Linked DNA regions of Homo sapiens. The protein of the gene in region 2 interacts with the protein of the main gene of each other region in a pairwise test. Each region holds a gene or a part of one and is shown on either strand. Other genes may lie near its edges.

Region 1 (7,028 bases), on a different chromosome or scaffold from region 2:
CTGGGTGACAGAGAGCAAGACTCTGTCTCAAAATAACTAACTAAATAAATAAAAATAAAGATGGGTCTCAGGGTTCCACAGGGGCTGCCATGACCCATGACCCATGACTGGAGGAGGGGGCTTCTTAGGTCAGGTACTCTGATGTAATTCAAAGAATTACAGAGGCCTCATCCAGTTCATTCAGACCTCACAATGAAGCTGCAGAAGTGGCCATTTGATCAGGGAGAACTGTCGGAGCGTACAAGACGGTGAACTGAATGAACGCTGAGGTTTGACTGCTTATTCCTTGATGAACCCTGTGAGTCTTTGCTTCCCTGTGCCTTGGTCTGAACGTGGGAGAGAAAGAGGTAGCCTAAGCCAGCTGCACGGGGGGAGAGTGAACAAGCCCATTAAGTTATCAGTGGGGCGCAGTGGAAACGGGGGATGTGACAGCAGGGAAACAGAAGTGGCATCTCTCTGGGCCCCTCCTACCTGCACCAGGCCTCTTTCTGAAACATGAGTTTCTCTGGGATGTGTGTTTGCTGTTGGGGAGCTGGAGCGAGTCTGTGTGGGTTGGAACTGTTTTCACCTCTGAATATGTCCTTATTTTGTGGTCATGCAGTTTTGGATTGAGATTGTGTGAGACTTCAAAGGAAACCCCAAAGCTCGCAGGAGAGAATATTGAAGAAAAGCGCATTGTATGTAGTATGGTTTGGCTTTTTTCTTCCAGCTGTAAAATTTGGCCGAATGTCAAAAAAGCAGAGAGACAGCTTGTATGCAGAAGTACAGAAACACCGGATGCAGCAGCAGCAGCGCGACCACCAGCAGCAGCCTGGAGAGGCTGAGCCGCTGACGCCCACCTACAACATCTCGGCCAACGGGCTGACGGAACTTCACGACGACCTCAGTAACTACATTGACGGGCACACCCCTGAGGGGAGTAAGGCAGACTCCGCCGTCAGCAGCTTCTACCTGGACATACAGCCTTCCCCAGACCAGTCAGGTCTTGATATCAATGGAATCAAACCAGAACCAATATGTGACTACACACCAGCATCAGGCTTCTTTCCCTACTGTTCGTTCACCAACGGCGAGACTTCCCCAACTGTGTCCATGGCAGAATTAGGTAATGGCATGCATGCTTCTCCTGGGATGCTCTATTCATGCCCTTTGAAGTAAAAGGGGTATGTCTGACTTTCCTCTAATGAGTTCTGCTAAATGATGCAATTCACCTTTACCATTTGGGCCACTTAATTTTCTGCCCTGCCCCCTTGCTTTTGACCCTCTGCTGTTTCCCATGGTTTATCCAATACATGCATTGACCTCTCAGCATTAGAAATGGGGCAAAACCAACGGAAGCAGTCTTTGAATTCTGCAGAAAACTGTAAGTTCAGGAAATGGCTACATTAACTTCATTAGTGGTTTACTTTAGTTATATTCCAAGGATTGCTTTATACCTAAGGTGACAAAAAAAAAAATGGCAGTCCACAAACTGAACTTGGCCCACAGACATATTTTTTTGCCCAGGGCAGAGTTTTAAAATTTTTGAATCAGTTGCTAATATTTAAATTTGGATAATTATACCCAAAAGTTCAGCTTTTTTAGCTTCTTGTGGGAGGGGAAAAAATGATCTATTTACACTGAGCCAACATTTGTGAATGTCAACAGCCAACTGGCAACAGCCAGGGGATTACACCTTTCAATGGGCCCACCTGACTCCCGCCATTTATATCATATGCACAGCCCCTGTAGGCATCTCATTTTTGCAACTCTGATATATAGTATAAATGTTCAACAGAAATCAGCTTCTTTACTTACCAAAATGTTCTGATGATGGATATTGGTGACAAAATTGATGTAATTCATATAAGGCTCACCATGCAAAAGACAAAAAACTGTCCTTTTCTTATTGCTGGAACATTACTGCTTCTTGGGAGATGTGACCTAGAAATGTTGATAACACAGACAATGGGCAACTTTCCATTTCGAGGAAGTTGTGTTAACATCCGCTGCTATATTTAATCGATTTTTAAGTACAGCACTATTATTAGAAAAACTTTGATAAGAACCTTTGTAGTTTTTAAATTTGATCTGCTCCTCCTGGTGGTTCCTCACACAAGGTTATAATCCTTTGGGATATGTCAATTAGTTGCTGTGGAGATGACTAAGTTAATACAAGGAGAGAATGAAGACTTCAGACGGAAAAGAAACAGCAGGTTCAGACTTGAGCACAGAAATCCTCAGTTCACAGAAATAATGGCTGTGTTCTTTAGACGGTTTCTCTACCTCTGCACCCCATAAAACATCTTTTAAGTGAAAATTTATATTTCCAGTAAAATCTTTCTCCAAATAGAACAAATTGAATGTTCTTTACGGTTTTTACACAAGCATCTCTTTATGGGTCTAAATTTAAATCCTCAAGAGCAGGGACATTTTAAGCCTGGTCTTTAACCACTGAACAGCATTAAAAGGTGTATTGCAGCTCTTTTGATTAACAGAGAAACCTCTGAACTAGAAGCCAAGCTGAGCAGAGGTAGGTTTGATTTTTTTTTTTTTTTCTTGAACTAGAACAAAAACCTTCCATTTTTGTCATGAAATCTTGGTTGGCTGAGCCTTAAGCAGAACTGTAATGAAAGTACAATTTTCAGATATGAATAAGGATTTGATTGAAAGCTGACATGATACCATGAAAAATGACCTGACTCACTTTAGGTTTGCCTCCACCTTACCATAAATACTAGTGACTCTGTCCTGTTTGCTTGTCAAATATTCAATCCTGAAATAAATCCATAGGCCTTAGGCAAAGCGTGCCCTTGAACATGGCACTTTGGCTAAAAAATGCACTCATACCGAAGTGGGGCCAGAAATGGCTGAGCCGATTCCCTGAGGCTCCCGGACAAGTCAGCTTCCTCTTCCATGGTCTCACTTTCCAGTGCAGTCTGGGAGCCCTGCCCCCTCATGCTTGCTCTATGTGCTTTTAAATTAGGGATTTTTCACAGGTGTTGTGGTATTTACCAAGATAAATTAAATGAGATCATCACTAGGAGAATTCCCAAACCCAAAACTAAACTAGCATTTATCTGGAAAGTATATAATTGGGCTCTAATTCTCTTATCCCATTTATACATGCAAAGTGTTTCAGGGAGCTAAGAGTATCATGAAAGTGGCCCAAGTCTTGTTGCTGCTTCTCCAAAGCTACTTAAATTTCCCTGGTATTTCTTTTGGGGCTTAAAGCCTGCTATCTCTTTAACTAAGACTCTTGACTTCATTTTAGGCTAAACTTTGTCATCAGATTTTAAACAAGTGAAACCAATTGTATAATAGGAAAATAAATTATAAACCAACACATCCTAAGTCCAATTCTCTCTTTCAAGTGTAGTATGCACAACCTATTACTTTTAGTGAAAAATATGACTTCATCCTTGGCTAGGAAATTTTGCCCTTGGTGTACAATTAGTACCTGAATTAGACATTCCAGATAAACGACCTAGGTTTTAAGTGCAAATTAGGTTTGTTACTATAATTGATATCTAAAGCTTTGCGCAGGAGAAACAGCTGATATACTGGGCAAAGCATGAGACAAGAAATCCGCTTATATGGGTTGTGGTCCTGGCATTAATATAAGTTATACAACCCAGTATACACCACGTAACATCTGCGAGCTGTAGTTTCTCTACTCCTAGAATATAAAGGTCTGTGTCTGAATCATAGCTCTGCTACTTGCCAGCTGTGACACCTTGAAGAAGTCACTTCACTGTGGTTCAGTTTCCTCCTCTGTAAAATGGAGATAATACTAGTACCTTTCTCTTGGGGTTGTTATAAGGATTAAGTGAGAAAACATACATATTCAGGATAGACACAAATTATGTGGGACTGGCATATAGTGAATGCTATATGTGTTAACTGCTATCATAATTATTAATGTCATTATTATTTGTTAAACAAGGACAGTTTGGACCAGATGCTATCTAAAGTTCCTTCCCACTATGAAAATCTGTGACTAACTCAGAAGCGAGGACTTCCCATCTGAAGTATCGAGGCGCTGGCTGTATTGCTGAAGCAGTCATGGTTGGGGCACATGACTTGCCCCAGTCACAAAGTGAGGTAGACTATAGATTATCTGCTGAGCTCAGACAGAAGCCAGGTCTCCTAACTCCTAGCCCAAGGTATTTCACTATTCCAGACTTTATCTGAGAGACCACGCTTAAATTCTCGAATTTTATTCAGCCTGACCATACTCGCCTTTGCTGAAATGGAGATTTAAAAATAGCAAAGTGTCTAAAATCTTACACTTGCCAAATCGACTATGAATTGGAATGAAAGGCTGTTGGTGAGCAGATGGTGTGAATGCAACCACTGCCCTCTACTGGTATGTCAGGTACACTGCATGATTTGTTGTCTCACTTTTTATTGGCTGTTTTAAATAGGTAGGGATAAGTGGCCACAGTTTCTTAAGACAAAGTGAAACCACAAGATGCTAAGTATCTTATTAACTAGAAATGAAACATAACCTGGAAGGAAATGATATGAGCCTCTTCTCATCCTTCACTCCACAGCATCCCCCCCTACTTCCCTGCGAAGACTCTTCATCTTCATCATTTTTTTATCGGCAAAAATTGGTTTACATTCTAGAAACGACCTTATATAGTGAGAGTTCTTTCCAAAAGAGGTAGTTCACTACCTTATTTATGTATTTTCTTGTTTCTTACTCCCCATTATTTTTGTCTTTACTCACCTATTCTCCAGCGTCATTGATTCTAAGACATGTAATTTACTGGCTTCTCTCTCTCACTCTCAGTTTCTCATTCTTTCCTTTACATTTGTTCTTTTATTTGTGTTTTATTTTTTATGTTATTTATTCATGCTGTTTTAGTGTCTATGTGTTGCCAAGTAGGGCCATTCAGGTTTATTATGTTTCAGTGTCTCTAAGGAGATTCTGGTTTCCAGCTCCATTTAGGTGAACCTGCTCTGTTTTCACACAAACAAGTCTGCTTCTGTTTGACAAAAGCAGTAACAAATTTCCAAACAAAAAGATATTCTCCCTAGTGTTGCCAAGTTTGCATTCAGCACCGTTCTTTTAAAATGACTTGCCTATTCTATACTCAAAACCCTAGGGAGAGGGATCATTTTTTGATATGGTTTTATATTCATGGGATTTTGTCAATTCTTTTAAAAAATACTTCTTTAATCATCCTTCCCTTCCAGAACAATTATTACCAAGCTGCTCCAAATTGTTAGTTCCTGGCATCTAGATTCTAGCAGCCTTCTATGTGGTCCTCCTGCCTGAGCTTCTCTGTGCTCCAATACACCAAGCACAAAACTGCTTGTTCCATTTCCCCAGATATAATTTTCTTTTTTTTTTTTTAAGAGGGAGTCTCGCTCTATTGCCCAGGCTGGAGTGCAGTGGTGTGATCTCGGCTCACTGCAACCTCCAGCTTTCAGGTTCAAGCGATTCTCCTGCTTCAGCCTCCCAAGTAGCTGGGATTACAAGCACCCGCCACCACGCCCAGCTAATTTTTGTATTTTCAGTAGAGACAGGGTTTCATGATGTTGGCCAGGCTGGTCTCGAACTCTTGACCTCAGGTGATCCACCTGCCTCAGCCTCTCAAGTAGCTGGGATCACAGACAGCCAACACCACGCCAATTTTTTTTTGTATTTTTAATAGAGACAGGGTTTCACCATGTTGGCCAGGCTGGTCTTGAACTCCTGACCTCAAGTGGTCTGCCCAGCTCAGCCTCCCAAAGTGCTGGGATTACAGGCGTGAGCCACCACACCCAGCCAATCTCTTCCTTTTCTGACAGCTTCAATTACTTTTTTCTTTCTCTTCTTCTGTAATTCAACTTTATACCTTATTATCTAGACTTGAATTGTCCTTCCAGTGTGTTCATACGTGTTCACCAGATTACAAGCTCCTAGAGAAAACTTCTTTGGCCTCTAGGTCTTTCATATCTTCAAACTCCTTATGCTCAAGTATAATAATAACTAATATTCTGTAGCACATTCTAAGTAATCCTCCCCATTCTAAGGGCTCAACTCTTTTAATTCTCATGGCAGCCCTGTGAAATAGGTACCATTTCCCTCATTTTACAAATGAGGAAACCAAGCACAAAGAGGTTAAATAACATACCCGAGATCACACAGCTAGTAAGCAGCAGAGCTGAGATACAGACTCAAATGGTCTAGCTCCAGAGTATGTGGCTTCACAACTACACTATGCATAGCCACATGGTAGGCCCTCAGTAATGCTTGTTCTGCAATTTGCAGGAAAAACAAAAGAAATACCTAGTTGTCACCATAAAAGAATATCATTTTCTAGTTTTTCAAGAATAAGAATAATCCTTCCCAGGTCAATGTTATGTGGCAGATGTGTCTTCATAAAAATGCCAAGAAGAAGCACCACGTCAATCATTTCCTATGTCTATCTAGGTCAATATTTTTTCATTCCTAGACATTGGTATAAAGGCACAGAACAAGGGCAAAGTCAGGAGGGTCTTTGAAGTCAGCAGGTCTTATCTTCAAATGCTGGCTTTGCAAAGTCCCTGTCCTCCTTCACGTTCCCAAATACAAAACAGTTCCAAATTACTTGTTTAAATGTGTAAAGACAGTCAAAACTCGCACAGCACATTGTTTTCTACTTGTTATTTCTTAAAGCAAATATTAAATCACCAATTATTCAAAGAACTTCGCTTTTCGTGTTTGTGATCTCCCGTTTTCTCCTTAGAACACCTTGCACAGAATATATCTAAATCGCATCTGGAAACCTGCCAATACTTGAGAGAAGAGCTCCAGCAGATAACGTGGCAGACCTTTTTACAGGAAGAAATTGAGAACTATCAAAACAAGGTATGATCTGAGGAATTTTTCCTCCTAGGATTGAGGCAATATTGGGAAGGGTGTTGGTATAGGAAAGTTGGTCAAGAGTTCACACAGACTAAAGAATGAATGTCATCAGGTTTCTGTTTAAATATCTTTTTTCTGAAGCTACTAATGTACTTGAGGCTTTGCCATTTAACTCAGATGCAAAATTTCAGCAATAGCAAATAATTTC
Region 2 (7,028 bases):
GCAGTGAGCCATGATCACACCACTGCACTCCAGTCAGGGTGACAGAGAGGGACCCTGTCTCAAAAAACAAAAGACATGGGAGGGATTAGAGGGTCAAAGGCAAGAAAGTGGCAGAGAGTGCAAAAGAGGCCACTTGGCTTGGCAGCCACGCCCACAACCCCACTGCCTGACGCCTTCCAAGAGGTGAAGAAGGAACAGACGGCACTGGCACTGTTCCCGTTTCTCACAGGGAAGCAGCTCCCCATGGGGGCCGTGGAAAGTGCAGACCTTGGCGCCGGCTGTGCTGTCTGACCATGTGCGCCTTCATGCTGTGCTTGGAGGTGAAGAGTCTGTTGCAGGTAGAAACTGGGCAACGGCTTTTCGGAGCACCCACATCCTGCACGTGTTTCTTAGAGTGAATGTACAGACTGCTACGAGCGGAGAACCTCGCGCAACATCCTGGAACAAAAAGAGTAATGAGAGTGAAACCCAAGGATCACCAAGGAACCAGGAACAAGTGACACTTCCCCATCAGATCAGAACCACCAGACCTGCATTTTGCACCCTGGCTACTGGCAAGGACAGAGACCAAATATCTCTAGAAGTAGCATCACAAGCAATTCAAGTCAAAAGCAAACTGTTTTTAAAAAGCAAGAGATACAGTGAAACCCGTAGGGAGATTTGAAGTCCTACCTCAGCTATGCCTAAGCAACCTCTGTGCCTGTTTCTTCACCCACTACATGGAGATGTTGGGAAGATTAAGTCAAATTAAGTATTAACTGCTTAAATATTCAGTTGAAAACAATTTATTCTAGTCATCTCGATTAAGCTATTATCATAAAAAATGTAATCCTAGGATGACATTTAGAGCTGGAAACTATCTTGACAGATCACCAAAGCCAGTCCTTTCACTTTCCCACTGAGACAATGGATGCCCAGGGAGACTGAGCAGGTGTCCTGGAGCCCAGAGCTGGCAACTCCTTGCTTACACTCCCAGTCCACTTATGTCTCTGATCTGCACACAGGCATCAGAGGAAAAACAAGACACATTCAAAGTTACAATCACCTCCCCTCCGTGCCCTGGCTTTCTACTACGCTGGAGCTCTGCCCCATATGGACACAGGAAGGAGACGTGGAGCTCTTGGCGGTCAGAGGCCTATGACCTGGTAGGGGCAAATAGAACAGCCAGTTGCTGCAACAAAGGGCAGAAGGAAGTCAGTGCCAACACTGAAACATGCAAGCAGCAGAGGAAACCACACACCTCCCGAGAAGGCAGAAAAGCGGTCTCAGGAGTATGCAGCCCTCGAGGTGACTGGGCCACCCTGCAGCAGAGCAGATGGTGCTCCTGCCGCAGGAGCTGCCCAGCCAAGGCATGGGGGCATGAAGGGCAGCAGTGCAGGCACCCCAGCCTGGGTTCCAGTTCAGCCTCTTACCAGCAGTGTGGCCTTAGACAAATTATTTATCTTTTGCGGGTCTCCTTTTTCTGTTCTGTGAAACGGGAGTGACACCTACCTCACAGGGGTGCTGAGGGCCCAATAAAGCCATACCTGCCTACAGAGCCTCTGCACGGGCCTAAGCAAGTGGTGCGAGCAACGACGCACTCGCGGCACCTTCTTAAGACGGTGGGGTGGTACTGCCAGAGCCCAGCGCCTGGAGGAGGGATATTTTAAGGAAAGAGGCTATGAAGATAGGATACGGCCAGATGAGTAAGGGCCTTGGATGCCTGTGAATATAGTTTTCAACTACATTTTTCATTTTCTAATACAGCTGCAAACTCGTTTCCAGGTCAGGCTCGTCAAAAACCATCTGGGAAACAAAGGAGACAGTCCGACGGCCCAGGACTGCCCTGCAAGCGCGCAGTTTCCTCTGCATGCCCTGCTCACCATGGTACACAGGGTACCCTGGAACCCCCTTTCCCAGCTGGGGGTCCTGAGCACGGATTTCTAGAGACAGGTCACAGAGCAGAGGCTCTGAGCACATCTTCTGTCAAATGCCTTCTTGATGGCAGGGCCACGCTACAACAGGACCCTTGCACACTCTTGCCAGCACTGGGTTTCCATTTTTTAAAGTACTTGCTAATTCCATAGGCAAAAAATATATTTCATTTTGGTTTGTATTTCCTGCGACAACCAGGAATGTAATCATTTCTCCAAGTGTACTAACTGCTGGCTTTTCCAAATTCTGCCAGTATATTGAGATCTGTTTCCATTCTTTACAAATCCAAGCTGCAACCAGGGAGAGGCAGAAGCAGCCATCACTGACAGACCTGTCTGCAAAGCTGCATTCAGAGGACAGTGAGGCGCTCACATGGACGGCCAGGCAAGCACAAGGCTCGGCAACACGAGACACAGGCCCCAGCACACATAGCCCCGAGGCCGCAACGAGGCCACCCAACACCTGCCCTCAGACATACTTCTGGTCTGTGGCCTTGTCCTTTCCTCCTCCTCCTGTTACTACAAAAAAAGGTAGTTTTGCCTTCTACTTTTTATTACAGAACAGTTCAAACACCTACCAAAGTGGAAAAAATGGTGTCATCAGCCCCAACTATTGCCCAACCCCAAGAATGATCAACTCTCAGTCCAGCTGAGAAGAGGTTCTGGGCTCCTCCCACCAGCTCCAACTCCATCTCCACGTGCTGCCCATACACCACGTGGGGAGTGCCCAGTTTCTCTCCCAGCACAACACCTAGACTTGCTGGAAGAAACAGAGCTCTACAGAAACAAATGCCCTATCCTCCACGGCCAACTCCCACCTTTCCCCTTTCCCCAGTCACCTCTGGCAGAAGTGTCAGCACAAACCATCCCCATCTCCCACTCAGGCCACCTCTCAGGGCACCAGAGCAGGACTCTGCCTGAGTGACCCACGGAACCTCATCCATCAGCACACCAAGACAACCCCGCAGGTGGCACCGAGGCATGTGTTCCCTGGTCCTGGCTCACCCTAGCACTCCAGGTGACCCCCACTTCCACACATTCCCCACTCACCTCAGCACCACCCCCACTGTGCTGTTGCTGGTCCTGCCAGTACCCGTCCCAGCCACTCCACCGGAATCTGGGGCAGCCCCAGGGCTCTGTCCTAGGTCCTTTTTAAGAAAATCTAACAGCAATCACAACAACGACAGTAACTGACATATATACTGATGTTTTCCATATGCGCTAAACTTAGTAACCAATCCAGCCTTCTCAACAACCCTGGGAGGTTTTATTCACTTTACAGATAAGGAAGAGGCACAGAGAGCTTCAAGTGTTTGTCCGAGGCCCCAGACCTACTTACGTGGCAAACTTAGGACTCGAATCCAGGCAGTCTGACTCCAGAATTCAGGCTTTTGATCAACTACACTACCCTGACTCTCCTCCATTTATACTCTTCTTTGAGAATTTCATCCACTTTTGTGGCTTAAATGATGATTCGGGTGCTGTCTGCTTCGCTCCCTGCCTGGCCTGCTCTCCCCAGCACCAGTGGCACATCCCCTGCCCTCTGCGCATTAGACGCACAAGGGTACCAAAAACACAACATGTCCAAACCAAACTCTGCTTCCTCCAAATCCACTCAGCTGACACACTGACATCAACTAAAATCCAAATCCATCACCATATACTGTGACTTCTAACTCCCACCTCTGCTATTGATGCCCCTTTCTCTTTTCCCACTGTTAAGGCCCCCGTCCAGGCCATCCCACCTCCCCACACCCCTGGCTGCTTTCAATCCTGAAGCCAGGCTAAGCCACAACTCAAACATGATGACATCATACGCTCACCCAAGCACTCAAGCCTGCCACTCCTGGCCCTGAGAGGCTCTCCCAGGCCACTCCGCCTCCAACACCCACACGCACGTGTCTGGTGCTCTCCCCTCTTCTTCAGCTGACCGCGAGGCCGTTCTCACCCCGGTCTGGGGAAACTCTCTGCGCCCCTGCAGCACCCTACATGTTACCTGTTCCCCTGTCTGCACCTCCAGCTGAAACTCTGACGGAAGGAGGAACTGTTTCTCAGTTACACCACTTGTATATATGTTCATTATGTTCTAAGAGCTAGGCTCAGCTTTAAATGGGTCTTTATTATTCTCTCTTCCAGGTAAGGAAACCAAGGCCCAGAGAAGCAGCTTGACTGAGGCCACCACTTTAGGGAGCGGTAGAGCCAGACTTTGAATCCATGACCACCCGACGTGTCCTGGCTCACTGCCTCCCAGTGCACCTGCAGAACTAGAGTAGGGCCAGCACGCACAAGTCACGCACAGGTCACGCAGCCAATTTCTGGCAAATGAACTGAGCCTTCAGTGTTTTAAAGGAAAAAACCACTCTACTATACCTTTTAAAAAGTCAGGTTGGGCGTGGTGGCTCACACCTGTAATCCCAGCACTTTGGGAGGCCAAAGTGGGTGGATCACTTGACGTCAGGAGTTTGAGACCATCCTGGCCAACATGGTGAAACCCTGTCTCTACTAAAAGCATAAAAATCAGCCAAGCGTGGTGGCATACGCCTGTAGTCCCAGCTACTCAGAAGGCTGAGGCATAAGAATCACTTAAACCTGGGAGGCAGAGGTTGCAATGAGCCAAGATCACACCATTGCATCCAGCCTGGGTGACAGAGCAAGACTGTCTCAAAAATTAAACAAAAAAAGAAAAAGTCAGTCTAGCTTTACTGCTCTCCAATTACAAAATGATTGGAGTGACAATTCAAACGTGATCTCAAAAGTACCTACCATTTACTGAGTCCGAGCTCCATGCCAGATGGATAAACAGGCATTTTCCACATTTCACCTAATCCTCACGACCACCAAATTAAACAGGTAACTTAACTAGAGCCACAGATCTAATGAGGATCAGGGCCATGAGTCAAACTGCGTCTGATTCTCAAGTCACTGCTCCCAAAATAGTACAATTAACTCAATGAGGTAAGTAAACATAATGCTGCAACTTATATTGAGTCAGTCTTTAAGCAGCTAACATTTACCTTTAAACAACGGAAACTTAACAGGATAAATGTTGGCATTGCACTTAGTTTACTGCTCAAAGCAATGTTTTAAAATCTACCTTCCACAGGACACTCGAACGGCTTTGTGCCTAGGTGGGTTATGCTGTGGCCTTTCAGATGCTCTGCTCTGGTGAATGATTTCCCACAGCCCTCGACAGGGCAGGTAAACCTCCGGTCATCGTCATGTTTCCTGCCAGACAGAAAAATAAAGGAGCTGTGATTCCTCACACAACTCACCATAATTCTTTAAAATTCTACAAAACATACCAAAACACAAACTTTGCATTTACAAAAATGATCAGTACATTTCGGAAAATCTTAATTCTGTCTTTAATCCATGTGAGCAGATTTGCAATTTAGCTACCCCATAAAAATTCTACTTTAATGACTAAGCTGACCCCAGAGTCACACATCAAACAATTAATGCTACTTCAATCTAATATAAGCTAATCTAAGAACAGTGGAGTCCCAAATGTATTGATGAAGGTGTTTCTATTGTTTAGAAACCCCAATGATCAACAAGCTTTCCGAGCGACAGACGGTCGTGAGAAATGTGCACAGAGCATCAGCTGCAATGCCAAAAGGACTCTCTTAAGCCAACTTGTAAAGACTGTGTCTTTTCCTAAGTGACATTTTTATATTAAATCCTCAGAGCCCAGCTGTGCAAGTACAGAAAAACCACTGAATCTCTCCGAGTCTCACTGTAAAACAGGGAGAATAAGAACATTAGCTTTGAGGTTGTTGGGAAGGTAGAAGACACACATGTAAAGTGCTGAGTGTCACCTGGACACAGTCTCCAGGGTTGTCATTACCACCATGAAAACTTGTAATTACATGAAGAAAGCTTATTCTACAATGTTAAGTTAAAAAAAAAACCTGGAATTGTTTTTTTTTTAAGAACAGAGTATGCCAATTTAGCTTTTTTTAAAAAAAGTATACACAGAAAAAACTGACTTCAGGTGATGAGATTCTGAGCAATTTTCTTTTTACAGTTTTCTGAATTTTCCAAATCATCAACACTGAGCTCCTTTTTTAACAACTTAAAAAATGTCTACAGATATTTCATTCATTGGTTTCTGCTGCTGACAAACCACTCATTTTCAAACCTGATAATGCAAACCAAAATGTAAGGATTACCTTCTGTGCCTTAGAAGTTTGGACATGCTGGTGAAGGTCCAGCCACAGCTGTCAGAGTCACAAATAAATGGTCTTTCACCTTATAAAAGAAAAAATTATACAGCATAAAATTTACAACTCCAACAGCTACGATGAAGACAAATCTTGGGTCCAAATGCTGTGCGTTCCCTAGCTCATTACCTGTATGGCTCCGCAGGTGAATTTTCAGCCGACAGGCTTTATCATACTGCTTGCTGCACCCAGGAAAGGAGCAGGAAAAGAGCTCTTGTTCCCTGAAGTGGGCTCGGTTATGGGAAAACAGGGCACTCACTGTGATAAATGTCTTCTCACAGCCTGAACAAGGAAAACACAAACCCTGCTCAAAGCGTGGCAAAAATTATACAACATAGCTAATGCTAGTCACACCCACCAGACCCTGTTCACACTGAAGCAGACAAGGGAAAACATGACTCAGAAGCACTCTCTAAAAAGGGAAGACCATTAATGCTTGGCTTTGTGATCACCACAGGAAGGCAGCTAATGGCAGCCAATAGGCACACGCTGGCCACCTGTTGCAACATGACTTGGAGATGGAGCAACCGATAAAGAGAAAGTCCTCCGTTCACAGCCATCTACTGGCCGGCTCCGGAGCACTGATCCTGCACACACACTGAGACCCAAGAACCCCATGAGAGAAATCAAATACTAAGGAACAAGATTTTGTCTGGTAGGGTTGATCTTTGAAAGGCTACAAATCATCCTACTAGCCAGGATTTTTCACCCCTTGGGGGTGATGCTGCATCCTCTACATATCCAAATTTCCTCCCTGACACCCTCCAACTGCCAGCCCTGTCCCTTGCTGTTTGGATTCTTTTTCCTTTCGCAATTTCCTTAGGTTCCCTGCTTTGTAATCTTCACCTCAATCCTAACCCCTGGCCAAAGCAGCTAAGCCTCAACAATTCCA

Evidence for each region. Proteins that work in one complex are often made in the same cells at the same time.
Region 1: the proteins of ZXDC (region 2) and RORA interact in a two-hybrid assay, tested with the Homo sapiens proteins (one study listed by BioGRID).

The regions. Positions count from the first base shown.
Region 1 is NC_000015.10:60,505,303-60,512,330, reverse strand, and holds part of RORA (nuclear receptor ROR-alpha), read left to right. Parts: intron 1-230; exon of another isoform or gene 231-298; intron 299-709; coding exon 710-1,105; intron 1,106-1,797; exon of another isoform or gene 1,798-1,923; intron 1,924-6,701; coding exon 6,702-6,823; intron 6,824-7,028. UniProt on the Homo sapiens protein: Nuclear receptor that binds DNA as a monomer to ROR response elements (RORE) containing a single core motif half-site 5'-AGGTCA-3' preceded by a short A-T-rich sequence.
Region 2 is NC_000003.12:126,465,888-126,472,915, forward strand, and holds part of ZXDC (zinc finger protein ZXDC), read right to left. Parts: intron 6,419-7,028; coding exon 6,266-6,418; intron 6,165-6,265; coding exon 6,086-6,164; intron 5,139-6,085; coding exon 5,008-5,138; intron 439-5,007; coding exon 268-438; intron 1-267. UniProt on the Homo sapiens protein: Cooperates with CIITA to promote transcription of MHC class I and MHC class II genes.